Linked DNA regions of Homo sapiens: all the other regions are linked to region 1. The links come from fine-mapping of genetic effects on gene expression. A gene starts in region 1. Each other region holds a variant in brackets. All regions are shown on one strand. Distances are between the middles of the regions.

Region 1 (10,861 bases):
TGCAACCTCTGCCTCCCAGGTTCAAGCGATTCTCCTGCCTCAGCCTCCCGAGTAGCTGGGATTACAGGCACCTGCCACCACGCCCAGCTAATTTTTGTATTTTTAGTAGAGACGGGTTTCACCATGTTGGCCAGGATGGTCTCAAACTCCTGACCTCAGGTGATCCACCCGCCTTGGCCTCCCAAAGTGCTGGGATTACAGGCATGAACCACCGCGCCCAGCCTGCATTTTAAAACAAAAACTTGAGGTGACGTTGGCAAAGCACTGGGTGACTCATGTTTAGGGAATGACAGTGGGGTCCAGGGAGGTGAGGAGACAGTCTCAAGCCTTGCAACTCGAGGATAGCTCCCGAGTCATGGCAGCCACTTCAGAGGGGCTGCAGGGGCCGGGGAGGTGGTGTCCTGGCATATGGTCCCTGCTCATGAGGTGAAGGAAGGGCTCATTCCTCATCCCGTGATCTTAGCTCCCTCCTCAGCCCCACCCCACAGGAGCCCCAGCAGGTCAGCTTGGCCCTCCCATTCATGAGTCCCAGTGGCCCCCACTAGCAGGAGCCCCCACTGACCTTGTTGTCCCACGCTCCTGTTTACCCCCCACCAGCCACGTCCCCTGGCACCAGGTTCTTGGCCAGGCAGTTTCCTCCTTCCAGCACCCCGGTGTGACCAGGTCCTGGGGGAGATCAGAGGCCCCACAATTTCTGGAGCCCCACTGTATGGGACAGAGTTCCACCTCTAGGTTCCTCCACCTCCAGCATCCTGGAGCAGCTGGGGACACCTGTCCCTCTGGGCTCCTCAGCGAGGCCCCAGGTCTGCCCCCCCCCAGACCTCCTTAAAGTGCTGTGCTCCCATCCAGTGCTTGCCCACGGTCAGTGGGGGCTGTGAGGGCCAAGAACTGGCTGAGAGGAGCCTGGTGGCATGGAGTCTGTCCGTTTCATCATCTGCAGAAACAGCTTCGTGGTAGTAATGGTGATGCACCCACCCCAGGCTGCTGGAGAATCCACACACTGTAGGTGATCACGCTATGTGAACCGCATCCTTCCTGGCTGGTGGCTGTCCTCACCCAGCACCCCTGCAGCGACTGCCCCCTTTCTGGGGGTTCTCCCACCAAGTCCCCACTCTAATCCTCTGCTGCCCAGACCTGCAGTTTCCCCCACCTACGCCCCCATCCTACCGCTTAAGAGGGGTGTGTGTGAGCACTTTCTGCCTCAGTTTCCACCTCTGTACTGCGGGTGGGTATAGTCCTACCTCGGGGTGTTCTCACAGTCAGAGGAGTCAACACTGACAAGCTGGGTGGCAAGGGTTCAAGGGGAAGGAAGCGGGTGCACAGGTGGAGCCAGGGGGCTTTCAAGTGGGGGACCCAGAACGGTAGGTACAAGTCTCTGCACTTTCCTCTACACCTACGGCATGTACAACAGGCAGCGAGAACCTGGATGCAAAAGGTGGGCTTCGGTTAATGATATTTTATCAGTATTGGCTCATCAGTGATAACAAATGCACCACCATTGCACGATGTTAGTAATAGGGGAAATGGGCGAGATATGGAGACTGTCTACTTAATTCCCACTTTTTTTTTCTGTAAACCTAACTGCTAAAAAAAAAATCGGTCTATTAAAAACAAAACAAAAACATGCCAAGTGAAGAGCCTCCATGTAGTGGGAGCCGCCGACGTTCCTCGCTTTTACGCCCCATCGTCACCCGATCCTTGTTTATGCACCTGGCCTGGGGACTCGGAGCCTCTGGAGCTGGGCTCGCGTCCTAGCCGTCCCCAAAGCGCCGGCCCACAGCGTCAGCCCCTGGCTTTTCCCCGCCCAGAGCTCCCGGCGCGGGCCCGAGCCACGGATTTATGAGGCCACAGCGCCCCCTGCGGGCCCCGCTCAACCGCCGGGAGCCCAGACCACGCGGGACTCCCTGGCTGCGCCACGCCTGCGCCCCGTGCTCGTCCTGCACGCGATGTCCAGCTTGTCACAGGTAACGACACGGAACAGCTCGAACGCTCGTGACTTTATTGCAGAAAAGCCCCGCAGTGCTGGAGCGCAGCCTAGGCTGGGGCTGCCCCTGCTGGCGTCCGCGGGACCCAGTCTGGCTTCTGTAGCGGGGCAGGGCGGGGTCCACGCAGGGCGCAGAGGCGGGGACGCGGCCAGCACGGGGGGTGCCCAGCACGGGGGCCTTACTTGATGACAGTCGCTTACCAGTCCTGAACACCTTACTGGGGCTTAGTACTCCGGATGACCGTGCGAGGTCACTGTTACAGCCCTCTACAAATGAAGCGGCACAGAGAGGCCGCGTAACTCGCCCGGGGGTGCAGTCGGTGAAGGAGTCCGTCCGGGGACCCCCTGCGAAGCTGCCTCTGCCCACTGGATTCCGGGTCTGAGAAAAGGGCACAGGCGACACCCCGCCTTCGCGGCCCGTCTGGGATGGCACGGAAGTCGGGGTCGTCCGCGCAGAGGTGGGCACGGGGCGCAGGCGGGCGCGGCCGGCTAGGGCTGCAGCTCGTACTGCCGCTCGGTGGCCGTGTAGAAGTCCTCCAGCACCGACTGCAGGAACTCGAAGGTGGGCCGCTCCTCGGGCCGGCTGCGCCAGCACTCGGCGATGACGCCGCGGTACAGCTCGGGCGGGCAGGTGTCGGGGCGCGGCATGCGGTAGCCGCGCTCCAGGTTGCGGATGACCTCGGGGTTGCTCATCCCTGCGGCAGAGGAGACCGCAAGCGGGGGTGAGGGGCTGGGGTCCTCGGTGGGTGGGGGGCCCTGAGCGTCCCGCGGGGCACAGTGGGCCCAGGCAAGGGACAGCAGTGCCCACAGTCCCAGACCACTTCTCCAGCCTCGTGCGTTGCCTGGCTGCCCGGTCTCTAAACAGCCCTTTATTTACTTTTTATTGCCTGGGGAATGCCTAGAAATGAGGCTGTAGATTTTCTCCTGAGTACGGGGCAGGTCCTCTGAAGATGGGACCCTCCCTCTCTTGATTACCTGTGACCACCAGGGGCACAGCCAAGCCCATCACTCATGGGCAGCTGCCAGGTGCACACAGCAGCAGGTGACCCGGAGCCTGCCCACCTGTGGGGGCCAAGTGGCTGGAGCCCTTCGACTGGGGCTGGGGGCTGTCGTCCACGATTCTGGCCACACAGGAAGGGGCTTTGGGGAATCCACTATGGGTGCAAAGCCAAGGTAGGCACAACCTGTCCTCAACTGAGAACAAGCCACTGGGAGTAAACTTGAGTTCGGATGTGCCCTTTGTCTTGATTTCAGTTTGAGGGACTCATTTGACCTCTGCTGGAGGAAGGAGACACAGCCCTGTGGCCCAGAGCAATAGTGATGCAGGGGGCAGAGCTCCACCCCAGATGCCATGCCTGGGTCTCCGTCTTCGCTCTGGGACTCACTCTGAAAAGAACAGGGCAGCCACAGGCACCAAGCACAGGCGACCTGCCATCAGGGCCGGCCGGGAAAGCAGGGAGCCGCGAGCTGCGGGGTGAGCCACCTACCTGGGTATGGCACCCGCCCATAAGTGACAACTTCCATCAGGAGGACTCCAAACGACCACACGTCTGCTTTGATGGTGAAGACCCCGAAGTGGATGGCTTCCGGGGCTGTCCACTTGATGGGGAACTTGGCCCCTGTGGGAAAAGCCATGCAAGCTTTGGGAGGCCACGGCCGGTGGCCCCTACCCTCCATCCTCACCCCTACCCCTGCTCCTGCTGTCCTTCCATCAAGCCCCCACTGCGGGGCCTCACAGGGCGGGGCGGCCAGGCATGGCGGGGGAGCCACTACCGCACACCAGGACACATGACCAGGTGAGTGCAGACACGACATCAGCAGCACAGAAAGACGATATGGACACCAATACCACACAGTCACCCACTTTGGTTCTTTAAAAAGAGAGCGATGGCCTCAATGGGCAGCCACCACGTTTCCACCTGGGATGGAAGGGGCCTGTTTCACCTTACAGGGGCCTTGTTTAATTTAAAAGACATGGCCTGGGCAAGCCATTTAAACCTGCGGGCGCCTCCGTTAGTCCCTTCCTGCAAAATGGAAATGGTGACACTTGTACCTCCGAGGGCCGCTATGAGGAAGAACTCACATCCGGCTGCCCTGTGAAGCACCTCAATGGCTGCAGCCCCGGCCAGCATTTGGAGCAGACCTCAGGGCTTGGCACTTCACAGCCTCCCCTGGCCTCCATTTCTCGGTCTCCCCAGCCAGCCTGAAGTTCCCGAGAGAACAAGCCATATCCTGTCTGCTTGTCATCTGACTCATAGGCTCAGCAGACACTGCTTGCTAGCTTGATAAATATATGTGACCCCTTCAGATTCTCTTGTGACGTAGATTTCCACCTCAGTTATATGCACAGAGTAAAACAGTGCTCCGTGGACACCCTAATACAGGTTGGTTTGCTGATCGCACATGAGAGCTGTGTTTCCCACAGTGTGCTCTGTGAAAGCCTAATTCCATGGAAGGTTAATAGGGACTATATAAAAATAGTATTTGGGCATGGCTTACACCTGTCATCCCAGCGCTTTGGGAGGTCAAGGCAGGCAGATCACCTAAATTCAGGAGTTCGAGACCAGCCTGGCCAACATGGTGAAACCCCATCTCTACTAAACATACAAAAATTAGCCAGGTGTAGTGGCACACGCCTGTAATCCCAACTACTTGGGAGGCTGAGGCAGAAGAATTGCTTGAACCCAGGAGGCGGAGGTTGCAGTGAGCCAAGATTGTGCCACTGCACTCCAGCCTGGGTGACAGAGACTCCATCTCAAAAAAAAAAAAAATAGTATTTGGAGCTCAAATTAGTTTGGGAGGCACTAGGTGAGGCAAACATAAACTGTTTCTTTGCTGCAGGACTTCTCAGTGCCTTTAATATGTTGATGTGCACTGGGAATCTCCAAGACAGGGAGTAGGGTGGACTGCTGTTTCTCCAAACCTACCTTATCCTAAAGCTGTTCCTCCATGGGAGGTCTCAGGGCACTACCATTCTGCTGAACACATTTGGGTAAATGAAGGAAATGCTGATCTAGAGCTGTAGAAACCGTATAGCCCTCAGGTGTCTTCCCTCAGGGCTGTGCTGGGAGAAGTTAAAGGCGGCTTTGAGGAGCTGGGAAAGATAAGGCCCTAGGTTTCCCTTGTGGTTAGGGGCTGTGCTTACCCTCTTGGGCCGTGTATTCACTGTCGATGATTCGAGCCAAGCCAAAATCAGCAATTTTGCAGCACAAGGCCTCAGACACCAGGATGTTGGCCGCCCGCAGGTCGCGGTGGATGGAATTCATGCGCTCAATGTATGCCATCCCTTCAGCAATCTGAGGGAACAGGCACATGGTGAAGGACAGCCTGGGGGCCTCCACGCCAAGACCGAGCCCACACTGTGTCCCCCGCACAGCCCCTGTGGGCTGCTGGGGAAGGAGCTGTTTCTTGGATGGAGTAGAAAGGTGACTGTGTTGCTCCTCAGCCGAATAAACTCCTCTCCTAGAAGCCCAGAACAGCAACGCAGCAACGTGGGCATCAGAGACACAGGGGCTACCTGTGCCCCTCCCCCTCCTCGTTCTCGCTCCACACAGCTGTGTCCAAGGGTCTGCAGAGATGGAAGATAGAAGAACACAGGCAGGAGAAAAGGAGAGGGAGGGAGAAGAGAAGAAATGGTAAGGAAGGAGGGGGAGGGGGAGCAGGAGGCAAGGACAGGCAGCTCTCACTGGCTGGCTGGAAGCACAGCTCCTGGAGCTGGAGGCCCTCGGGAAGTCGCTGACCTCTAGCAAGCTGCTTAACCTCCCCGAGGGGCCACAGTCCTGACATGGAACATGAGGGATGTGGTCTCCAGGGCAGGGGGTTGAGGCAAGCATTAGACGAGGTTGATTTGTGACCAAGAACCTCACCCAGCGCCTGCCCCGTGGGGGCACCCAGGGAGCACTGGCAGATCCAGGTGGACAGAGGCTGTGAAGAAGAAGAGACTTGTCTCTCCTCCCCTGATCACCAGCCTGGGCCAGGGATAGCAGCTGGTGCTACTTGGCACCTTTTAGCTGAGGAAACTAAGGCTTTATTCACCCAATCAATGGACGAAGAAACTGAGGCAGAAAGCAGAGACCCCATTTACCTCTTCAGACATGCGACTTCAAGAAGCCAGCACTAGAATTGATTCCACTTCTCCTTATGCTTGCATTTTGTTGGTTTATCTATGAATCCATCCATCTATCCATGCATCCATCCATCCATGCATCCATCCATCCACCCACCCATCCATCCATCAACACATCCATGCATCCATCCATGTATCCATCCATCCATCCATCTATGCATCCTTCCATGTATCCATCCATCCATGGATCCATCCATCCATCCACCCACCCACCCACCCATCCATCCATCCACCCATTCATCCATCCATGCATGCATCCATCCATCCATCCATCCATCCATCCATCCATGCATCCATCCATCCACCCACCCACCCACCCACCCACCCACCCACGCATCCACCCATCCATGCATCCATCCATCCCCTTGCTACACCATGCAATCAATACTCATTTACTAATATGGGACTGTGGGGAATATAAAACTGAGTACTAAATATATCTGGGCAGCATCTAACAGTACTCGTTCTGATAACTAATATTTATTGAACAGTACCAGAAATATATTTTAAAAAATGTTGAGTAGGGCCCAGATCTGCTTTCAAGAAGAAGCTGCCCAGATCTGCTGAGCAAGAACAGTGCTTCCGGGAACACCTGAGCTAAGGGCTCTCTGGCAGTTTCTTGTCCAGGGAAACCTTCATAGAAATGACATTACGCTTGAGCCATGGATGATGATAAGGATTCTGCCAGGTGGGAAGTGTTCAAGGCTTCCTGGGCAGAGGAGGTAGAGGGGTGGCGAGGCATGGGGCATGGGAACCGGTGGCATCTGGCTGCAAAGTGGGGCCCGAGGGATTGTGATTGCAGGGTTCCTGTGGGGTTGGCCAGATCTGGCCTTGGAAGAAAGGTCTGGCGAGACTTTGCATGGCTTCCTATGGAGTAAGAAAAGAAGAGCCCAGAAGGGCCGGGTGTGTGTCTGCTCATGTGTGTGTAAGTTTGCGTGTTTGTGTGTGTGTTTGTGTGTGTGAGTTTGTGAGTTTGTGTAAATGTGTTTGTGTGAGTTTGTGTTTGAGTCTGAGTCTGTGTATTTGTGTGTCTGTGTGAGTTTGTGTGTGTGAGTCTGTGTGTCTGTGTGTGTGTCTGTCTGTGTGTGAGTTTGCGTGTCTGTGTGAGTCTGTGTATGTGTTTGTGTTTGTCCGTGTGTGTGTGAGTCTGTGTTTTTATGTGTGTGAGAGTGTGTGTGTGTACATGTGTGCTTAGAGAGCCATTGGCATGGTCAGCATGTGGTTAGAGGCTGCCCTTCTGGGAAGTTCTGATTTTCTGGCTCCTCACCCCCGATTCTGTGGCTACATCCAGGTATTAAACTCCGATGGCTTTTCACATCCTTTGCCCCTGGGTCACACGAGATTTCCCAAGGGGGTGTAGTGGGGATTGAATAGGAGACAGCGGAGGGTGAGAGAAGGAAGGGGAAAGGAAGCAGCAGCAGTGGGCAGGCTTATCACTGCCCTGGGGTTTGAAGCCGGTTACCAGCACTCATTTTCCAAAACCAGCCTGCCCAGATGGCTGTCTGCCCACCTCAGCGGAAAAAGGCGTTGTGGCATCAGTTCCTGCAGCGGCGCTACTGGGTAAGGCTGGGCGAGGGGCGAGGTGGGAGGGCTGATGTGGGCGGTGGGTGGGAGCGTTTCCTCTCGGTGGCAGCTGTATGTGTGTGTGTATGTGTACGCACGTGTGTGCCTCACAGGCTGACCACAGACCAAAACTTTTCTGCTGAGAGTTCCAGTTTTAACAGGGCCACCAGATGTGCTTCCTGCCAGCTAGAGCTCTCGGCTAAAACCCTCCTCTCCACTCTGCTCTTCACCCCATGGAGTCCAGAAAGTTCTGCATGTGAACGTGAGGGACACTGAGGACCAGTCCTGGGTAGCCAAGGAGGTCCAGCACTCGCAATTCCCTGGTGGCAGAAGGTGGGGCTGTCCTCCAGGGCTCAGAGAAGTCATGTCCCTGGCATCTGTGTGTAGCTCAGGCCTGCCCATCAGCCTGGGGTCGACGCCAGGGCTGTGCAAAGGCTGAGGGCCCCTGGGATGGGAAGTCCTACAGGAGATGTTTGTGGGCACCATCTAAGGAAGAGATGAGGTCACAACAGAACACACTTGCCTGCCGGGTTCAATGGAACTCTTGCTAACTCTGTGTGTTTCCCATGACATTCATTCGCCCTCTCTTCCTTCGGAACAGAATAGCCTCATTCCAACACAGCAGCCCGGGTCTAAGGCTCCATTCCCTGGGCTCCCTCACAGCTGCGTGGGGCAGGAGGCACAGTGGCCAGGGTTTGCAAGTCCAAGTGCAGTGGGTGACCTTGGGGATATCTGCCTAGAGGAAGGTGGCCTTCAGTACCCCCTGACTTCTCCTGCTGGCTGAGAGGATGGGGTGGTAAGGCACGAGCAGCCATTGTGGGCAGCAGGTGGCACATGCCGCCCTTTCTCTGCACCTGGTACTTCACCAACCTGCGCCGACATGTCAATCAGCCTTGGGAGTGACAATCTGCTCCCTTCATCTGTCTTCAGGAAATCCAGCAGGCATCCTAAGAAAAGAGAAGTTGCAAGTGCCCTTCTGCAAAGTGACCCGCCCCTGGTGGTGCCAGCCTCTCTCTGGTGTGAGTGGCTCCCCATGGGCGCGGGAAGTGGGAGTTTGCACCCTCAGATCTCTCGGTGCATCAGGAAGGATCTACCTACTGCTGCCGAGTGCCTTCCACTTTACAAAATGCCAGTCTCAGCACCCCGGGAGGCAGCCAATATACCAGCAGTTGCCCAGAAGTTAGGTTTCAGCCAGGTGCAGGGACCTGTCTGAAGTCACCCAGCCGGGAGCTGGGAGTGGGACCCCAGTTCTGACTCGAAGTTTCATGCCCCTTCTTGTCTTTCCCCCCGTGTTGGCCTCGCTCCCTTGATCCCTGCTGGCAGACACCCTCTGCCTCTGAGGACCAGGCATCAGCAAGAAAGCACCAGAATGGAGAGAACTGTCCCCCAGGTTTGGTGCAGGGGACAAATGCAGCTCCCCCTGGAATCAGAAAGCTGGGAGGGATGGATGCTTGCCCTAGGGGCAGGCTAGAGGCACCCCCAGCACAGCCTCCGACCGGGGGCCCCTTGGTGACAGTTGTTAGGGAGCTATATCAACATGGGCATGTTAGGATCCTATAGGAGCAGTGTGCGGTCAGGGTCATAGGAGGGTGAGAAAGTGGCATGAGAACTTGGCCACGCCGTGGACCTCAGAGGCCATCAAGCCCAACCTCTCTGGCCATCCTTGTAAAATATTCACACAGTTGTAAATGGTTGCATGACCAGGAGGCAGGAGACCTGGATCTAGTACTGTCCCTGCATGCCTGGCCTGGTGTTCGTCTGACTTTGCAATGCTCTGTCCCTCCCAGCAGGCATCAAAGAGTGCTAGGCACAGAAGATGCACTCCAGAAATGCTGTCTGAACTGCTCCTGGGCTGAGAACATGGCTCTGTCAGAACCACTTCACCCTCCTGTTTCTCACCCTCCCTCTGTCCCTCCCCCTCCCTCCATCCCTCCCTGTCCCCACACCGTGCCATGCCCTAGATCTGCAGGACCCCCTGGCCTGGTGAACCCACCGCAGCGGACCCTCCTCCTCCTGCTAAGCCCGGCCCTCCCGCCTCGCTCTGAGGATGCGGCTCTGCGGGGGGCACCACCTCTGGCCATGTACTCGGTGACAATGTAGATGGGCTCCTTGGTGACCACTGCGTAGAGTCGGACCAGCCGCTCGTGCTGCAGAGCCTTCATCACGTTGGCCTCACCCAGAAAGGCTTCTGGAGACATGGTTCCCTCCTTCAGCGTCTTAATGGCCACCTTCATGTTGTTTTTGTAGTAACCTGAGCCCGGGGGAGTGAAGAAGCCAATCAGAAGACAGAGAGCTTGCTCGGAGGTGATCCCTTAACCAAAATCGGGGTAAGTGCCCAGGTGCCACCCCATTCCAGGTGCCAGAGCTGGAACATGCAGTTCCGGAGGCCATGGTTGTGTGGTGCCTACCTTGCGTTCCAGGTCCCTTCTATATGGGGCCTCAGGCAGTGGAGGAATGTACCCTGCCTGGGGGGCATTTCACCTATTTGCCCCACACCCTGGGCCTGTGTCCTTCTGTCCTGCACGGAACCTGTGTCCTTCCCCCACCCCTCCCCTACATAATGAGTCTCTTCTATCACACAATAACTCCTTGGTGGAAATAAGCACACAGCCTGGGGTACACTGGGCAGGAGGATGACGCATGGGGGTCTCCTTCCCTCCTTCTGAAGCCCCATGGCGATCCTGTCCCACTCCTTAAACTATCTGTATCTCCACACTCTCCCTGTACTCCATGAAGTCCCCTGAAGGGCAAAAGACAACTCTACTTGCTTTTCTAGAGGACATGGGCCTTGGCAGGGACCTGGGTACAGCTCCTGCCAAAAGCACCGTGGGCATCAGCCCCAGGTAAGGGAGCACTCATGGACCAGCCCCAGGTAAGGGAGGACTCATGGACCAATCCAGGGATAAAACGGAACACGAGTTTTATATCCTGGTGGGCGGGGGGGGGAAGGGGGCAGGTGTCAGCAGCGATGGAAATGTGAGGACACCAGGCCTGGAGCTTCAGTGACTTGGCCAAAGTCCCACGGCTGCCCTCGGTGTGCACTCAGGCTCTGGAACATCATGGCTCATCACGTTTAACCTCCTGTTTCCATCTGGGTGATGAAAAGCTAAGGGGAGTTAACGCGCCGCTGCAGCTCATTGTCAAAGCCAGCTTCAGGCAGAGAACGAAGGAGGGAGCGACTTCGGGGC
Region 2 (7,696 bases), 71 kb after region 1:
AATAGCTAGCTCACAGGATACTATCAGCATTAAATGGTAGAATGGGTATGAATGGTGGGCATAGAATTGGTGTTTGGTAAAAGCTAATTTCCCATGTGTTTTACAGTACCCTAGCCAGTAGTTAGTTGACTTGGATCTCAGAGCCTCTTCAATGGTGGAAATTTGCTTGGCTATGAAAACTCAGAGGAGTAGAGAACAAGAATAATGGAGGTAACGGGAGAAGGATCCCAACATCTAGAGTGGTGAGTGGTGTCTGGAGTGGTGGGTGGCATCCTGTACACAGCAGTCAAAGGACCAATGGGACCAAGAAGGCTTCTGTGATGACGTCAGAGTCTTGCTGGTCCAGCCAGACACAGTGAGCCACTGGTCAGCTGGTTCCTTTCCACTAGTGTCTTGATATTGGCTTATAAGAGGAAGTCACTCGGTGGGCTCTCTCTTCTCCCTTCATAGTCTTGGATCCTTGAGAGTGGGTGTGGGAGGCAGACAGGGTAGCTTCTACCCCATGGTCCAGAATGTCAGCTTTCTCAAGGAGTTCATTTCCTTGGATTGGACTGAGACAATACTGAGCTATGAGTTGCAGGTTTGACAGGTGTTCATGTCAATAGACGCAGCAACGCAGAGTTCTGGGGTTTTAAGACACTATGGAAATAATCTGTTTCACTTCCCCAAGGGGTTTTGTGAGAATAAATGGATTCATGCATAAAAAGTATCTATTACAGTATTTAGCACATAATAAACTGCAAATACCTGGAAGCTGATGTGAATGTGGCTAATTGCTTTAAATCCCAAAGCTGATCTTCTCCACGTGGTAGCAGAGGGCTCACAACAATGTCCAGAACCCTGGGCCTGCTCAGTCCATGGCAGCTCCTGTTAATTTACTCTTACATTCACTTCCTGATACCTACTACATGGATCCAAACATGAAACATGAGTTCCAAACTCTGCGAGCTTCTGATTTAAAAAGTGACTGATTTGAGATGAGGTAACTTAGTCTTCCTATTTCAATTCAATTAATGCAGCACTGTTTTTCTGAACACCTGCTCTGTGCTAAGCACCTGCTGGAGGCTGGGGATACCAACGCAGCTACACTCCATCCTCCTCTGAGAGTCTCAGCCTAAGGAGCTTGGAGAAGGGGCCTGATAAGCAGATCACTGCAGTGGAGCGTAGTAGATGTAGCCACAGAGGCCTCAACGGGGCACAGTGCTAGACCAGAGGCGGAGGCAATAATTCTATCAGGGGTCACTGGGGGAAGCTGCCAAGGAGAAGGCTTTGAACATGATTCGTGACTAAGACTCCTACAGACTCTCAGAGACAGATCCCTAGGCTGAGTCTTTTACTGAACCAGGATGTTGTGACGCTGCCTGAACCGCCTCTAACATTTTTTCAATAGGGCCTAAATAGCTGACGTTTGGACAACTTTTATATACTTGGACTTGAGGGTATAGAGAATGTAGTGGAGAGCAGGAAACCCAGCATCCTACAAAGAAAATACATGGTCTGTCTACCCAAGGTTAGAGTGGGAGGGGATGTGAGAGTTTGCAGGGAGGTGTGCTGGCCCTTATGTGATCTGTGATAAGACATCACCTTTATGCCCACCCCAACAGACAGAGGTTGGAAAATAACAATACCAGACACACACACACACACACACACACACACACACACACACACACACACACGATTCCAGCAGCCACTCAGAAAGAAAACAAGGAAATGACTTTGCTCATGGGTTCCAGATGTCTGAGCAGAAGTGAAAGTTAATTTCAGCCATTTTCACCCTCACAGTCACGGGCCCATGAGAAAGGCGGAAGAGAGGTGGGGAAAGGACCCCGGGGAGAAGATGGGAACAGTGACACTTGTTAGGGGAGGCTGGGGAGCCTTTTGGTAGAAAACCTCAAAGCGGTTTTCTCAAGGCGGGACTGAGACTAGACCCTAGCTCTGAAACGCCCAGTTCAGCGTTCAGCATCACTGGTTCTGCCATTTATTTTTGTACATTTGAGGTGACTTATGCAAAATTCAGCT[C/T]TCCTTCCATGTGCCTTCACCAGCCTCCTAATATCAGTACATCTCTGATCAAAATCAAAAGCTGTAGGCAATAAAGTAAGTGGAAGAAACATAAAACCAATCCAGTCCAAGATTCACCTCAGAAGGGTCTAAGAAGTTGGCCAATTTCTTTTTGAAGAAAACAAGTATAAAACTAGACAAAATTGTCAGAAACAACAATTTCTGGGTACTAGAAAATGTTTGTTTCTGGGTACTAGAAAAACCAAAAGCAGACAATGATCTGATAAGTGTTTAATCTTAAAAATGGCCTGCATCAGAATGGCCATGAGTCTACGGACATCTTGCCTGAAGCTCCCCAGCCCCTGGCCTGAGTGAGGAAAAGCACAGGTTACCTAATGGGAATGGTGGACTTGGTTTGAGGGCTGTCACTGAAAACCAGTAGCTAGGCAGGGAGCGGTGGCTTAAGCCTGCAATCACAACACTTTGGGAGGCTGAGGGCGGGGCAGATCACTTGAGGTCAGGAGTTCGAGACCAGCCTGGACAACATGGTGAAACCCCATCTCTACTAAAAATACAAAAATTATTTCGGTGTGGTGGTGGGTACCTGTAGTCCTAGCTACTAGGGAGGCTGAGGCACAGGAATCGCTTGAACCCGGGAGGCAGAGGTTGCAGTGAGCTGAGATCGCACCACTGCAATCCAGCCTGGGTGACAGAGCGAGACTCCACCTCAAACATAAATTAAATAAATAAATAGATAAAAAGAAAACTAGTAGCTATACCAGCAGAAGTTGGTAGATTTGGTCTGGGATGGGGGAGATGAGAATCTGCATTTTATGGGTTAAAGTTCATGGAATCAGTTCTAGGGAGAAAATAAAAATCTGCAGCTTTACTGGCTTGAGATTATAGCTTCTTTTCATGGTAGACAGGAGATCAGCCAGAATTGTGATGAGAACTTGGAAGTAAGCAAGCCATGAGAGGGCTGGGACAATAAACTCCCTGCACATCTCTGACTAGGGAAGAAACCCAAAAAGGCAGCAAAAAGTGAGAGCCAAGGGAGACCTGACGATGTGCAAAAATTTTTTTGTTTAGTTTAAAATTTATTTGTTTTTATGTATTTAAGGGGTACAAGTGCATGTTTCTTACAATGCATATATTGCATAGTGGCGAAGTCTGGGTTTTTAGTGTGCCCATCACCTAAATGGTAAACATTGTACCCAATAGGTAGTTTTTTTTTTCCTTCTTTGAGACAGGGTCTCACTCTGTCCCCCAAGCTGGAGTGCCATAATGTAGTCACAGCTCATTACAGCCTTGACTTCCTGGGCTCAAGTGATCCTCTCATCTCAGCCTCCAAGTAGCTGGGACCACAGGCACATGCCACCACACCCAGCTAGTGTTTTGTATTTTTTGTAGAGACAGGGTTTTGCCACAAAAAGTACCTATCGGAACAAATAGGTACTTTTTCAACCCTCACCCCTGTCTCACCCTCCCACCTTCCGTGAGGACTTGTACATGTGAATGTGTTTCTTCGGCCACACACAGCTCTGGCAGCAGAAGATGGGAGGCTTAGTTGTTCAAGGTACCTGAGCATAACTTCTGTCTAAATAATTGTCTCATCATCATATAATACAAGAATAGAGGACACCTTTAGGGAGCCAGACTGAAAAACAAAGAAAAATATTATAATAAAAACTGCACTGTAGTATCAGTGGCTGCACACCATGGAGGAGATTAATTCTGCAATTTAAGTCCAGAAAAGTTACTAAAACAGAAAACCAACAACTTTTAGGAAAGTGAATGGAGTCTAGAATCACTGCAATGTCTAGTTTTCAACCAGAAATTACTAGACATACAATGAAACAGGAAAGTGTGACCAGAAAAACCAACACAGACAGTAGATTAAGACACAACTTCAAAGAAGTTGTTATAGCTATGCTCAAGGAATTAAGGAAAAATGTTCAAAGAATTAAAGAAAATTTTGTTAACAGTGAACCAATAGATACTTTGGATAGATAGATGAAAATTATAAAAAAGGAATCACATGGGATTTCTACAGCTGAAAATTACAAAAATTCACTACATGGGTTCAAGAGCGGATCTGAGACGGCAGAAGAAAGAAGCTGTACATTTGAAGATAGAGCAGAAGTTATGCAATCCAAAGAACAGAGAACGAAAAGTTAAGTAAACAGAGCCTTAGAGACCTGCCAGACAATATAAAGTGTTCAAACACAAATGTAATAGGAGTCCCAAAAGGAGAGGAAAGAGAAAGAGGCACAGAACAATTATTTTTTTAAAAAGTTGAAAAGTCTCCATGTGAGTAAATACCATTAACTTACAGAGTCAAGAAACTGAATAAACCCAAGGTAAAAAACAAAAACAAAAACAAAACAAAAAAAAACTTAAAGAGAATCACACCTAGATGTCATAGTCAAAATGCCAAAAGCCAAATAAAGGAGATAACATTGCAAGCACTAAGAGAAAGAGAGAGAAACAGAGATACATCACATTAAAGACAACATGATTGGTGGTTGACTTCTCATCAGAAATAACGGTGACTGGAAGGTGGTGGAATGACATGTTTAAAGTGCTGAAAGAACAACAAAAACAAGAACAAGAACTTTCACCTACAAATTTACTATCTGATAAAACTACCCTTCAAAAATTGAGGTGAAATAAATATTTTTCCAGATAAACAAAACAGGGAATTTAGTTCTGTTGGACTTACACTACAAGAAAAGTTAAAGGCAGTCCTTTAAAATGAAAGAAATTAATATCAGATAGTAAACCAGTTCACAGAAAGAAAAGAAGAGCACTGGGAATGGTAAGCATGTAGGTAAAGTGAAAATATATAATATAATAAAAATATAAAATGTATATGTATACATTACTTTTTCTTGTCTTATTTTAAAACACACACACAATTATTTAAATCAGAAATTATAATGCCATACTGTGGTTTTATAACTGTGGGTTTATAACACAGTATGGCATATGTACAAATAGAATATACATGACAATAACAGCACAGAGGAGGGAGGGTAAGAAATGAAGCTATAATTGTGCAGTTTTTATTTTTCACCAAAAAAAGTAAATCGGTATGAATTTAAAGTAGATTATGATAAATTGAAGATGCATATTGTAATCCCTGCAGCAACTACTAAGGAAAAAAGATTTAAAGAAACAGAGTTAAAAAAATAAACAGAAGAATTTAAATGGTGTACTAAAAATATTTTAATATAAAAGTAGTTGGCCAAGCATGGTGGCTTACGCATGTAATCCCAGCACTTTGGGAGGCTAATGTAGGAGGATTGCTTGAGCCAGGAGTGCAAGACCAGCCTGGGCAACACGGCAAAACCCTGTCTCTACAAAAAATACAAAAATTAATCGGGAGTAGCTGCGGTCCTAGCTACTCAGGTGTCTGAGATGGAAAGATCATTCGAGCCTGGGAGGTAGAGGTTGCAGTGAGCCATGATTGTGCCACTGCACTCCAGCCTGAGTGACAGAGTGAGACCCTGTCTCAAAGATAAATTAAAAATAAAATAATAAAACTAGTCAAAGAATAATAGAGGAACAAAAAAGACATGACAAGTAGAAAAAATAACAAAATTCTAAATCTAAATCCAAACATAAAAAATTTTATTAAATTTAAAAGAATTAAACACTCCAATCAAAATGCAAAGACTGTTAGACTGAAAAGAAAGCAAGACCCAATTCTATGCTGGCTACAAAAAATAAACTTTAAATTCAAAGACAAACAGATTAAAAGTAAAAGGATCCAAAAAAACTACATACCATGTGAACAATAAATACATTACAACTGGGGTGCCTATATTAATATCAGGCAAAATAGAATTTAAGATAACACATATTACTGGGAAAAAAGGGTGACTTCATAATAAGAAAAGAGCAAGCAATAGCCAGAGCTGTCAAAATTATGTTCATGTACCTTTTTAAAAAGTCCTAAAACACGTGAGGCAAAATCTGACTGAACTAAAAAGTTCAATACACAATATACCAATGATAGTTGAAGATTTTGATAATTTTCTTCCAGTAATTGATAGAACAAGTGGAGAGAAAGTCAGAAAGGATAAAAAAGATCTGAACAACATTATCAAACAACTTGATTAAACTGACATATATTAGCAATCCACCCAGAATATCCATTATTTTCAAGCTTACATAAAACATCACCAGGATAGACCCTATGTAAGCCATAGGGTCTTAAAGAAAGTCTCAATGACTATAAAAGGAGTAAAATTAAACAAAGTATCTTCTCCAACCATAATGGAATTAAATTAGAAATCAATAACAGAAATAATTTTGTTAAATTTATTTGGTGTAAATTTGTTTGGTGTAAATTAAATGACACACTTCTAAATAACCCCAAAGAAGAAATTAAATGAAAAATTAAGAAACACATTGACCTGAGTCAAAATGAAAGTATAGCACATAAAATTTTATGGCAGCAGCTAAAAAATTAGAGGGAAATTTATAGCTATAAATATTAATACTAGAAAAAATACAAGGTTGGTCTACAATCACTGAAAAAGAAGAACAAGTGAAACACAATGTAAGTAAAAGGAAATTAATGAATTAGAGCAGAAATCAATGAAATAGAAGACAAATAAAAAAAGAGATAATCAGTGAAACCAAATATGGGCTTGATAAAACTAGCTATCAACAAAGAAAAGAGAAGATTCTATTTTCATCACAGAATCTCCAGAAATTTCAGGAATTAGAAGTGAGGGTAAGTTTTCACTTCTCTCTCTCGTCTTCTGGAACTTACAGAATGTGTATTTGTTTCACTTGATGCTATACCATAAATCTCATAGGATTTCTTTATTTTTTTAAATTCTTTTTCATGCCTCTGACTGTAATTTCAAATTACTTGTCTTCGAGTTAACTGATTCTTCTGTGCAAGTCTGCTGTTGAAGCTCTCTACTGCATTTTTCATTTCATTGATGGTATCCTGCAACTCCAGAATTTCTGCTTGGTTCTTTTTTTTTTTTTTTTTTTAATTATTTCTATCTCCTGAACATCTCCTTTTGTTCATGTACTCTTTTCCTGAGTTCAGGAACTCTGTTTTCTTGTAACTCACTGAGCTTCTTTAAAATGATATTTTGAATTCTTTGTCAGGAAATTCATAGATCTCAATTTTGAGGGGGTTATTCACTAGATATTTATTGTGTTAATTTGTTGCTGTCATGTTTCCTTGATTTTTTGGTGCACCTTTTACCCTTGCCTTGTGCCTTCACATAAAGGAGTAGCCACCTCTTCCAGACTTTACAAACCAGCTTTGGTAGGAAAAGGCCTTTACCTATGGGTGGGCACAAGGGCACTGGCTGGAAAGGGCGTGAGCAGTGCTGGGTTTGGCACAAGGTCCAGGGATGCTGATTCTAAGGCATGCAGAGGTGCCATTTCTGGGTGCACATGGTGATGCTAGGTCTGGCCAGTGGGCACATGGCCACCATTAGTGATGGGTCTGATTGGTGGGTACATATACAATGCGATGGGGTGCAAGAATGCACATGGTGGTGACTCCAGCCCTGGGGGAGGCATAGTGGTGACTCAGGTCCCAGGAAAGGAGCAGTGATGGCTCTGGCTCTGGAGGGCACAGTGCTATGGACTTTGGGCAGCTCTGTCAGCTAGGATGAGCATTGGCGAAGACTCTGTGGTATTCAGTGGCAAAGGCTGCAGG
Region 3 (11,074 bases), 50 kb after region 1:
GGCTGGGGGCTGGGTCGGGGAGTTAGTTTAACAGGGCTGCTATAACAGATATCGTTCATGGAAAAATGGGAGAAGATAGAAAATGCATAAGACCTACTAGATTGTCTTTCTCTCAATAGATTATTAATAAATGTTCCTTGAGTAGGTCAGAAAGATCCTCTGGGAGAGACAGCAATAGGGCGGTGAACTTTCTTTGCACCGCAAGGGGGAAGGGCGGTCGTGAGACCCACCCACCAAGTGCAGGACTCGGGGTCTGTGAAGTCTCCACTGTGCGGTGTGGTCTAAGAGCATCCACGACAGTGTCTGTCGGGCTTTCTGTTCTTTGTTACTGTGGCTGTCAGTGAGAAAGACGTCAGGCTCTCGCACCCCCGTTCTACTTTCTGTTCTCTGAATGGGACTACTCCAGGGACTCATTTAAATGGAATTGCAGTGTTTCTCCTTTGTGTCTGACTCTCTCCTCTTAGCGTCATGTCTTCGTGGTTCATCCATGTAGCAGTATGTGAAGGAATTTCCTTCCTTTCAAAGGCTGAGTGGTATTCCATGGAATGTACAGGCCACGATCTGCTTATCAGTTCATCTGGGCATGAACTTTTGTTCCATCTACAGTGCCTGACATCCCAGGCACGCGAGTGCACACCCATCCCCACACCAGGATACAAAAGCCTCCCAAAGCCTTTCCTACAGGCAATGCCCCTGGGTATTCTCTATTCTATATGATTTTGTTTTTAAAATGCCAGCAGGAGCCCACTTGATTTCATGAACAACTAAAGCAATTCCCTGTTTGATTTCCTGTTTGAAGCCACTGTTCTGAAGAACACAGACTGCAGGAAGCTGTTCTGGGCCATCCCCGCATGCAGCGCAGCACATATGACATGAGGCACTACAGTGGCGGGGAAAATTGCATTTTAAGCACTGATACAATATTAGAAAAGACAAAACTTTGAAAATTAAGGAGGTAAGTGACTGGCCTCTAAAGACAGAAAAATAATGCAGTTAAAGAAAATGGAAGGAAGGGGGAAATAGAGGCAGGCATCCAGATGAGGGCTGCAGCAAAGGAAGAAGCCAAAGACAGTAAAAGAATGCCCCAGAGAGACGCAAGCAATTAAAGGGGAGCAGGGAGGACCCCTGTGCGCCGGCTGCTTACTTCGTCCCAGACACTCCCCCAGGCCCTGAGGACTCAGGTGGAGCCACTGACATGGCTGACCCCTGGCACTACCTCTCAGCTCCTGGTCATCCTCAAAGCATCCCAGGAGGCCGGCTTCCAGACCTCCACTCTACAGGTAAAGAAATGAAGACTGACGGAGGTCAAGCTTGCTCGAGGTCCCTCAGCCGGGAGTGGCACAGGGAGGATGTAAGCCCAGACCGCCTGTACTTCCAGGACCCATCTTCCTTCTCTGCTGTGGCCACCTCCACCCAGCCCAGGGGACAGCACACCCCACTCGAGAGCTTCCATCTCCTGGCACCAACCAGCAAAACAGGGCAAAACCCTGAAAGTTCTTGGTGCATTGCAACTGGGCGTTTGCAGTGACTGCTGGCCTGTGTGGAGAGACTAGGGGAAGAATCTCAGAGCAGCAGCTTGTCGGGGAATGTGGAGGGGAGGACTCCAGAAGAGGTGAAAGTCATGTGCGTGCCTCAACCCTGGAGTGGGAGCTCCCCAGGAAGGGGAGGGGGCTGAGGTCAGTGACTCCTAGATTTGAGCAGGTATTGCTGACTGGTGGGTTGGATCAGAAATGATCTGGGACTGTAATAGCTTCTTGGGCTCCTGCATATGATACAGAAAGTATGAAACAGGGCCAGGAATCTGTATTTTTTACCTCTCACCCCCATTCTGATGCTCAGCCAGGGCTGGAATGGAGCCCTCCTAAGCCTGTAGTTGCCCTGCTGCATAGGTATATCCACCAGCAACTTGCCAGGATGGGTCCAGAAAGCAGGCTCACGGGCTACTCGAGCCCAGAGGTGGGGGCAGTGCAATCACAGGGGCTGGGTGGATGGAGAAGGCCCACAGTGGCAGCTTCGGCTGGGAGCAGCATCTCTGCACTGTGTCACTTGTACCCCAGCCTCTCTCCCAGCTGTTCCCCTCACTGCTCAGAGCTCAGCGTGCAAGAAGGGTCCTCCACTGTGCTCTTACAAGGCTTCTGAGACCTGGGATGGCCTGCTGGGCCTCAGATCCCTCGGGGAGGCCATTGCGGGGCTCTTGCCTGTAGCCCGCAAACACCCTTGTTTAGCGTCCTTCTGCCTTTAGGATGGGACTAAGACAGCATTGCCTCTCTCTCGCAAAGGACAAGTGGGTTTTCTCACATTTGCTGGAACAGTGGACAGGAGTACCCTGTGGACAGATCAAGGCTCTATTTGCTGAGTCCTGTCTTTCAGCTGAATTGGAGCAACCGTTAGACTCAGTGACAGGTAGCACATGGTCAAGGTGACCAGGGACAGAGACCTTGCCCAGACCCTGTTCACTTGAAATAACAAGGATTTTCCTCCACTCATTTCCTGGGATACCAAAACAGAATGGTTCCTTGTGCCAGAAGGGAAGGTCCGATCCCCTTGGCAGATCCTGTGTCATTACGAGTTTTATTGGGTTCAATGTCATAAAACACCACAGCCATGGAGACCTATAAAATGCCCCAAACATTTCCCTTGCAAAAGTCAGACCAAGGAGTTGAATTATTTCCAAGGTGCAGGCTTCTCCGAGTGATGGGAGACTCTGAATCCACCTGGGTCGGGCCCAGCTGCTCCATTACCCCAAGCCCCCTTCACACAGGGTTCTCATGCAGTGCGCGGCGGTGGTGTGGACTGCCCGCCAACCACACTTAAATCACATGGAATTCAATAAACGTCCACAACCTGTTCTGAGCACCACTCTATAACTCTGGCTAACTATTTAGAAGGCACTTTGGGAATGCAATGCCTCAAAGGCCTCCCTGGATCACTTGGTATGAATTTTGCAGCCCAAGGTGCAATCTTGTACGAGTCACTTCATCTCATTGCTTCTGTCTCTGTGCAGCGAGGGCTGTGGGTGGATGATCTCTGAGTTGCCTCCAGCCCTAACATTCAGGGGCTATGATTGCATCGCAGATTTAGGGGATGCTGAGGGACAGACAGCCTGGGCTCTGCTCACAGCTGCAGAGAAAAAGTGTGCAGCCTGGAGATGGTCCAGCCCTGGCACTCTCATGCCCTAAAGGAGCCTGGGGGTAACACAGGGCTCCATCAGGAATGATGCTCTGGTTTCTCTTCGTCTCTCCACTCCCTCTCAGTCTCCACTATGGTCCACGAATCACCAAGGTCTTCATTGCTGCCAGCATCAGCCTTGTACCCCTGCTTTTCCATCTCCCCCTTCCTACCATCCACTCCCACTTCAAGACACAGAGGTCCTAGTTCATCAGCCAACTGCGTGTGGTGCATTGAGGACAAGCCCTGGGACCCAGCATGCTCTGTAAGGCTCAAGGCCAGAGACCAATCTAGGCCGTGGGCATGGACAGTAGGGATCTCGTAGGAGGATAAAACAAGAAAAGTAAATATTTTATCAAGGACAAAAAAGAACTTCAAGAGACTCTTGCTTCAGACTTCCATGAATAAATAATTCTTTTAGAAAGGCAATCATGTTATGTGGCCCGTAAGACCTTAAAATTGAATAATCTGACCAGCCGCGGTGGCTCACGCCTGTAATCCCAGCAGTCTGGGAGGCCGAAGCGGGCAGATCACTTGAGGTCAGGAGTTTGAGTCCAGCCTGGCCAACACAGTGAAACCCCATCTCTACTAAAAATACAATAATTAGCTGGGCATGGTGGTGGGTGGCGCCTGTAGTCCCAGCTACTCAAGAGGCTGAGACAGCAGAATCACTTGAACCCAGGAGGGGGAGGTTGCGGTGAGCCGAGATTGTGCCACTGCACTCCAGCCTGGGTGACAGAGCAAGACTCTGTCTCAAACAAACAAACAAACAAACAAACAAAACCAGAAGCCTGTGTAATTTGCAGTAAAATTTTAAAATCTCTCTGAGCCTCAATGGCTTTATCTATAAAGTAGAGGGTGGAAATATGTTTTCTGCCTGCCTTAAAGGATCAAATTGATAATACTAAAATAATTTGTAAAACATGAAGTCCCATGTAAAAATCTCTGTTGAGACCCAATTGAACCTAAATGATTAGAACTGTTGGGCTTTCAGACTATCCACATCTGTGTCAGATGGCTGACATGTCGTCAGAGTGATTTCAGGGTGGGGTTTAGGATGAGGAATTTTACGTGCTTATAATGATATTGGCTAGACCTTGTTAAGAGATCATAACAAGTTCTGGAAAAGAGCTAAACAAACAACACAGTTTTCTGTGGTGTCCTCCACAGGTCTGCTTGAAGAACTAGTCTTCGTTCACGAGGTCATCCACACATCACCAACTCTGTACCCATTAAGTCATCCCTTCTTCTGATCCCACAGCGCTTCTTACAGACCAGTAGCATAGAACTTGCGTGTCTGCCTTCTAAACCAGACTCCTCCTGAGCTCTTCAAGGAAAAGCCATTTTGTTTGTTTGGTTGTTTATCTTTGTATTTTCAGGCCCCATCTTACCACTTGATACATTGTAGACATGCAGTAAATCTTTCTCTTCTTTGAACGAATAAATTAAATAATCAAACAATCACAGAAAACCCAAACGTAAGAAAATGCTTACTTTTCCACCTCCCGACAGCATCCACTGCCAGAAAGAGTAAATAGTTTCATTTACCAAGACAATGGTGGAAAGATGTCATTCATACTCCCAACCAGTGTTATCCTAAATATTGATTATGGATCATTAGCCAATACTTTGGGGTCAAGAGGGCACATTGATCTCATGTTGAATGTTGCACTACATCTAAGACGCCCAAAATGAAAATATAATTTTCTCCTTTTTGTTGCATGACTGTTTGCCGTATTTCAGGAAGTCCATCCCCTTTAAAGACTGCTAGTTTTCAACAATAATAAGTGGGAAACCTAGCAGAGATTCCCAGAGGAAGAAAGGAGAAGAGAAATTGAATTACACCCCATGTTCTTTGCTCCAGGTATACACACTTGTGTTTAAGGAAATTTAAGACAGAATTTCTAAGAGAGAAAGCAAATCAAACTTTTTTAGGAAGTCAAACCCGCTGACTGGTGCCAGAGTTTGTTGTTAACAGAAACTGATTTTTTTTTTAATACTTTAAGTTTTAGGGTACATGTGCACAACATACAGGTTTGTTACATATGTATACATGTGCCATGTTGGTGTGCTGCACCCATTAACTGGTCATTTAGCATTAGGTATATCTCCTAATGCTATCCCTCCCCGCTCTCCCCACCCCACAACAGGCCCCGGTGTGTGATGTTCCCCTTCCTGTGTCCATGTGTTCTCATTGCTGTGTGAAGACAAAAGACCGAGCTGTATTCAGGAATTCAATGAGCTGAAGTCTCCCACTCCGTTGGGTGGAACTTTTGGGTTTGGTCTCTTGAATTTCAAGGTTTCTTTGGCTCCTTCAGCCTCAAATAGTAACATTTCAGTTTGGTAAACACAGCTCACCTCCTATGGTGAGTGTTTGTAGCAGGAAAGAACAATTAACTAACCACAAATATTTGTGTGTCAGTCTGACTCCCTGGTGAGAAATGCAAAGCTTACGGGGATCCATGTGTTTTAAAATGCCAAAGCATTTCCTTTAGTTAAGAACCACGGACGGCCATAATCAAGGCAGAATCTCGTACTTTAACACATTAGCAATTAGCTTTGGTTAAAAAAGTAGAAATAGAAGCAACTGCCTTAACAAAGAGGCACTTTATTTATGTATTTATTTATTTATTTATTTATTTATTTATTTATTTATTTATTTGAGATGGAGTCTCTGTCATCCTGGCTGGAGTACAGTGGCGCTATCCCGGGGATAATATATTCCCTATCCCATTACTGGACCTCTGTATGTAGGCAAAGATCTTTCGATTTCTTTCATTTCAATCTCGGATTCCCAGAAAGGGGGAAAGAGACAGAGAGAGAAAGCTGGGTTTTTTAAAAAACATTTTTGGGGCCACAGCCCCCGTTGAGAACCTGATGGAACTACAGACACTATCCCTATAAAATACACTTATCACAAACATGCCAAATTTTGTGCTCAGCTTCAGGACCTCTCCCCCGACAAAGCCCCACAATCATTCATGGACTTCTGATTAGAAACCCTGGTTTAGATGATGGGACAAATGTACCCAAAGCCTTGGGGTTTGTTTCCTTATGAGTCATTTCATTTCACAGAGAGGAAAGTCTGCTCTCTGGCCAAAGACCACACCAGTAACCCTGGCCAGCAAATATGGCCGTCAAGGAGCTGGAGAAAAGAGATGAAAAACTCAAGTCACTATCACACTGACTTTAAACGCAATTTAAAGCTTACCCCACGCCAGCCCCCAAATGAATGTTTCATCTCCCCATATCATCGTAATTCCTTGAAGGGATTAGGAAAGAACACTCTCCAGCTCCACGATGTAATTCAGAATGACTTTGCAAGCTGCATTTATTTTTTCAATCATCACCTGCTATGGTGATACAAAAATATGGAAGCAAACGAAACACCTGATTGAAATGGTGATAGAGTTCACACAGTGAAATATTATGCAGGCCCAAAAATGATCATTTTGAGTCCTCAAAAGTGATCAAAAGTAGCAGTGGGAAAGATGCTTATGTTATAATAAAAAGAAAGAAAAAGAAAAGAGAAGAATCTAAGGTGCTATGTCTTTATGATTCCAGCAATGAAAACTGCGCATCAGATAAATCAAAATGGGTAGCTCTTAGGTAAAAGTGTTAGGTTGCCAGTGTTATTGATGGTTTATATCTATTTTCAAAATTTTCTAGGGTATTATATAATGTTTACAGTTTAAAAGTCAGGAGAAAATGACACATCTGTACAAAATCAGCCTGTTCTTCCAAGTGGCTGTGGCCAGACTGCCCCTCTAAGTGGTCCAGCTCTTTCTGTGGCTTCTCTGGTGATTAGGCTGAAAAGGCAGCCGGGTCGCCACAGACCCGGCAGAGCACCCCCAGGCTTAGACAACCACAGAACCCGAGCTGGGAGACTGGAAACACTGGCAAGGGCGCAGTCACATCCCAGCGCCCACCCTGCTTCCTATCAGCCCCCGTGCAGTTCAAGTCTGCCGCACAGAGACTGGCTCATGGAAGCTGGTGAGGCATTTCCATGTCTAAATCCACGTGGGCCTCTGATTTTTGGATTCACGTCATCCATGAATTGGCTGTGAGTCAGATATCAATGACCTGTCCAGGGCAACAGCCCTGTGGATGGTGGATGGTAAAGTCCCTGGGCTGCCAAGCCCCAGGCCTGGCTGGCTTCTTGCTGGCATCAGCTGATGCTGGAAACCGAGCTGGGGTCCCGATGACATCCCTTCGGGTGCTGTGAGGTTAGCTGCTCCCACAGCAGCCACCGAGAGAGAGGATTGCCAACTTTTCGTGCGGTGTAACCTAAAGGAGGGGTAGCAGCTTCAACAGTTAGGCAGCCACTGTGACCTGGTTAAGGGTTATGGTCAGCACCTGAGTCATTGTTGTGATGCCTCCTAAGTAATAGCAGTGCCAGCTGCATGCAGCTCATGGCCTGCTTGCTCCCCACAGGCTGGGCTGCTAACGACCTCCCTTGCCTGCAGCTGGGGGGAATTGATGAGTAGGAGGCACAAAAGGCGCCCAGCATTTCCTTCCCAAAGCTCTCAGTGGATGGGCAGGCACCTCCCTCGAGCCCTGAGAAAACCCCTCCACCACGGCTCCTCTGGCCTCTGCAAATGTCAGTTGCT[C/T]CCTTGTCTGATGGCCCCAAAGGGCAGGACCGGCCCCCATCACAGTTGCGTTTGGGTCAGAAGGAGAGATGGGTGCACACAGCTGACACTACAGTGGCTGTCTTATTTCTGCCGCCCGAGGCCCAGCACAGTGTCTGGCTTTCTGCACATCCCCGTAAGTAATGATTGACTAGTGACAGTTCCAATTCCAGGAGACCCGAAGGCAGAGGGAATGCGGGAGAGGACTGACATGAAGTACCTTCTGGTATAGGGTGGTCAGAAGTGGAAAGCAAGGAAGAAGTGAAAAGCCACGGGTGGGGGCTGGAGCTACTGCGTGGACAGGAATGTGGCTCACCAAGAGGGGGCCAAGGAAGGTCCCACACATGATGGCTTCGCCATGGGGCCATGTCTTCAGGCAAACTTGTGCCAGAGCCCCCTAGCGGAGGAAAGCTGTTCTGGATCCCAGGTTTTCTGAGGCCTACAGTCACCTAGCACGCGCCCCATGTGAGCACAGCTTGAGCTCACCCGTTCTTGGCTCTTGATCTACCCCCAGTAGCTGTGCATGTGTCTGCAAGCCACGGGTGATTTCCCAGCATGTGCTTAGCCTTCGCGCCGTGACACGCTTCTCTTGCCTTACAGTAGTGGCAGAGGCGGTGGTTAATGAAGACAGATGGAGGGTTCAGAGCACTGGCTTTGGGGTCAAACAGTCCTGAGCCTGCACTTTGGCTCTAGTCCTTCCCAGCCCTGGGCCAGTGGGCAGGTTCCTGATGACATCACGGGGCTGTTGTGAGGACCACATGACTTTAGGTTTGAGAAGCACCCAAGGCCTGGTGATGACCCCCTACTTGACCAGTGTGCCTGATGTGCCACACAGAGCCACCAAAGGGTGCACTGGAAGGCCGTTGACTCTACCCCCGATTAGCAGTGCTGGGCCCTGAACCCCAGAGAGAGGAAGTCACCCAGCCAGACAGCAAGGCCAGTGCTCACGTGTAGAAATGCTGGCTCGGGGAGAAAACTAGCTTGCCATGGGGTGACTGTCTTTAGCAATCTCTTCCCTGCTCTCCTGGCCTCAGGTTCCCCCTCCAGTCCTAATCCAGGTCACCATCCTGCCTCACTGTCATCTGCACCCTAGGCCTGGCTGATCTTTGGCACCCACTGAGCTGTATGTTGACATGGACCCAGTAACCCCCAAACCCCCAAGCTGGTCCATTGGGACTTTCTGATTCGCCTCTTCTAAATTCCAAGTGCTTGGCCACTCCTTACCTGGACCTTTTATCTCCACTGGGTCCACTAAGCTCCTGTCTCTTCAAAGTTCTTTTAAAGCGTGACTTGCCTTCTTTTAAAAGCTCCCAAAAGCCCTCAGGGTGGGTGGTGTCTTCCCCTGCAGTTGGGGTGGTCATCCCTGCCTTTCTTGAGGGCCATGACAGGCCCGTCCCCTGGGAGGATCCATTAGTGACATCTACATGGTGGTCCAGGCCAGGGCCACTGCAAATCCAGGACCACTCCCAGGGGCAGGGTTTGCCAAGGTGGGAAGGTAGGACATTCTGCCTTATTCTTTTACAATCCTAGTCCATCGTCCTTCCAATTCTAACTAGTTGTCAAGCTGTCCTTCCTCCCTAGCCCGCTTCAGTTTCCTTCCCCACTTCACTCTTCCTCTGCCAAGGGTGTTGTTACTTGGCTCCTGGCCTTGTAAAATCACAGTGTACATTTATACTGCATGTTGGAAAAAACATCAATGTCACAAGCTCAGTGATGCTTACACACTGCTCTGTCAGCAGATGGGACAGGCTACCTGCCTTTCTGAGATTGTTCTTCCTCCTATTTGTTATTTTCCCTACCCGCACCTGAACCATTCACGATGGTTCTGCACCCATTGTCACAGGAAAGCAGAAAGAGAGACAAAAGAACTTTCCTGCTTTCAGCCCGTGATGCAGATCTTTCAGCCCGTGACTGAGAGATCTTGTTGAGTCAGTTTGGGCAACCGCGTCTCAAGTGGCCTCCCTGAGAGTCCCACCTGGGGGGCCCCAGAGTGGGAGGATGCATCCCTCAACCTGGGATGTGGCCTGGAATCTCTGAGAGGGGGCTTGGCCAGGGTCAGAGGCTGACATGACATTCTAGCAGCCCCCTGCATGGACTGATGACAAAGACCAAATAGGCCACCCCAGAATTCCTGAGACTCATGAGGCTCCCAGAACTTAGACCCCACCCTGGAGAAAGGTATGAAGACCCTGAATTGAGAGGTCAGTTTCCTCTCCCCAACAGAGATGTAGCTATTACCAGATAGCTTTTCTGTTTTTGCACACCAAGCTGTGGACTGAGATTCACACTCAACATACGTAAATCCAGTCTGTCAGTCATTCACCTGAGCCCACCCACACCCCTCCAGAGGCCAGGAACGCCCTCATAAGAAGCCTAACCTGCCCTTCCACCTTCCATGAAACTAGTGCCATGGCCAACAGTTACAAGGATTCAGCACATTCTGTTGTTTTCTTTTTTTCTAAAAAATGATAAATGAGCCAACTACATCTTTCTGAGTGTCTTCAGGCTGTGACCTTGGGAAGGCAAAAAGCCCTGGCATTGTCCTCCCCTAGGTCTGCAAATAGGACATAAAACAGCTTCAAGCACATTCAAGGTCACCTTAAAGACACCCCACGATGTGGCAAAGAGACAGCTCCAGAGCCAGGCTGGTAACCTTCTGCGTGACCTCAGGAAAAGCACTCAGCTCTCCAGGTGTGCGGTGGGGAACCAGGATGAAGAGCCACGTGCACCTGGCACCTGGCCCAAAACCTGTTCTACCATCTGCCTCCCTGTTGGGCCCACTGTGGGAAGAGATTTGTCATGCCTGGCGGGGACAGGAGCAGGGCGAGAGGAAGATGGGGAGAGGTCTTATCGGAGGCAGGGACATTAGGACTGGACCTCCAAGGATACATAGAAGCTCTCTGAAGGAGATGGGCATTTCAGGCAGGGAGTGGAGTTGGCAAAAGCTCTGAAGTGTCATGTGTGCCAGGGAGTCCTCAGGGACAGGACAGATGGGCCCAGCGTGCTTGGAGAAGAAAGGAGACCCAGACTGTCCACTCCCTGGAGGCCTCAATGGGAGACTTGGCCCTTGTTCTCAAACACAGAGGAGTTTATGGTGGCTTTACCCTGTGCGGTGATAGGGCCACATTTGAGTTTTAGAAAGACCTTGGCAGCCACACATGGGATGAATTGGAGCATCAGATTCTGAAGACAGAGAAATGAGCTCCAAGGATGCGGAACTGCCCAGTCTAGAAGGGGGAGGGCCTGAACGAAAGCAATGGAGCTTGGGAGCAAATTGG

Evidence for each region. PIP is the estimated chance that this variant, and not a neighbour inherited with it, causes the effect.
Region 2: its variant is fine-mapped to the expression of BLK-AS1 in blood mononuclear cells (TOPMed, PIP above 0.99).
Region 3: its variant is fine-mapped to the expression of BLK-AS1 in whole blood (TOPMed, PIP 0.93).

The regions. Positions count from the first base shown.
Region 1 is chr8:11,555,721-11,566,581 of GRCh38, reverse strand. It overlaps BLK-AS1 (BLK antisense RNA 1), which reads left to right and starts at 8,317. Exons shown (of 5, transcript XR_948956.3): 1 at 8,317-8,692; 2 at 9,921-10,516; 3 at 10,720-10,861. It overlaps BLK (BLK proto-oncogene, Src family tyrosine kinase), which reads right to left. Exons shown (of 13, transcript NM_001715.3): 9 at 9,745-9,924; 10 at 8,544-8,620; 11 at 5,130-5,280; 12 at 3,472-3,603; 13 at 1,983-2,679. The coding sequence ends at 2,474. RefSeq lists a silencer at 1,782-1,881 and enhancers at 3,162-3,211, 7,858-8,147.
Region 2 is chr8:11,486,256-11,493,951 of GRCh38, reverse strand. No RefSeq gene overlaps it. Among named protein-coding and RNA genes, the nearest start is that of BLK, 4.3 kb to the left of the region's middle. RefSeq lists cis regulatory regions at 1-872, 946-2,206 and enhancers at 1,634-1,783, 7,451-7,570. The variant C/T (reference allele first, on the strand shown) is at 2,023.
Region 3 is chr8:11,505,531-11,516,604 of GRCh38, reverse strand. All of the region lies in intron 1 of BLK (BLK proto-oncogene, Src family tyrosine kinase), which reads right to left. Among named protein-coding and RNA genes, the nearest start is that of BLK, 17 kb to the right of the region's middle. RefSeq lists enhancers at 8,450-8,679, 9,743-9,802. The variant C/T (reference allele first, on the strand shown) is at 7,779.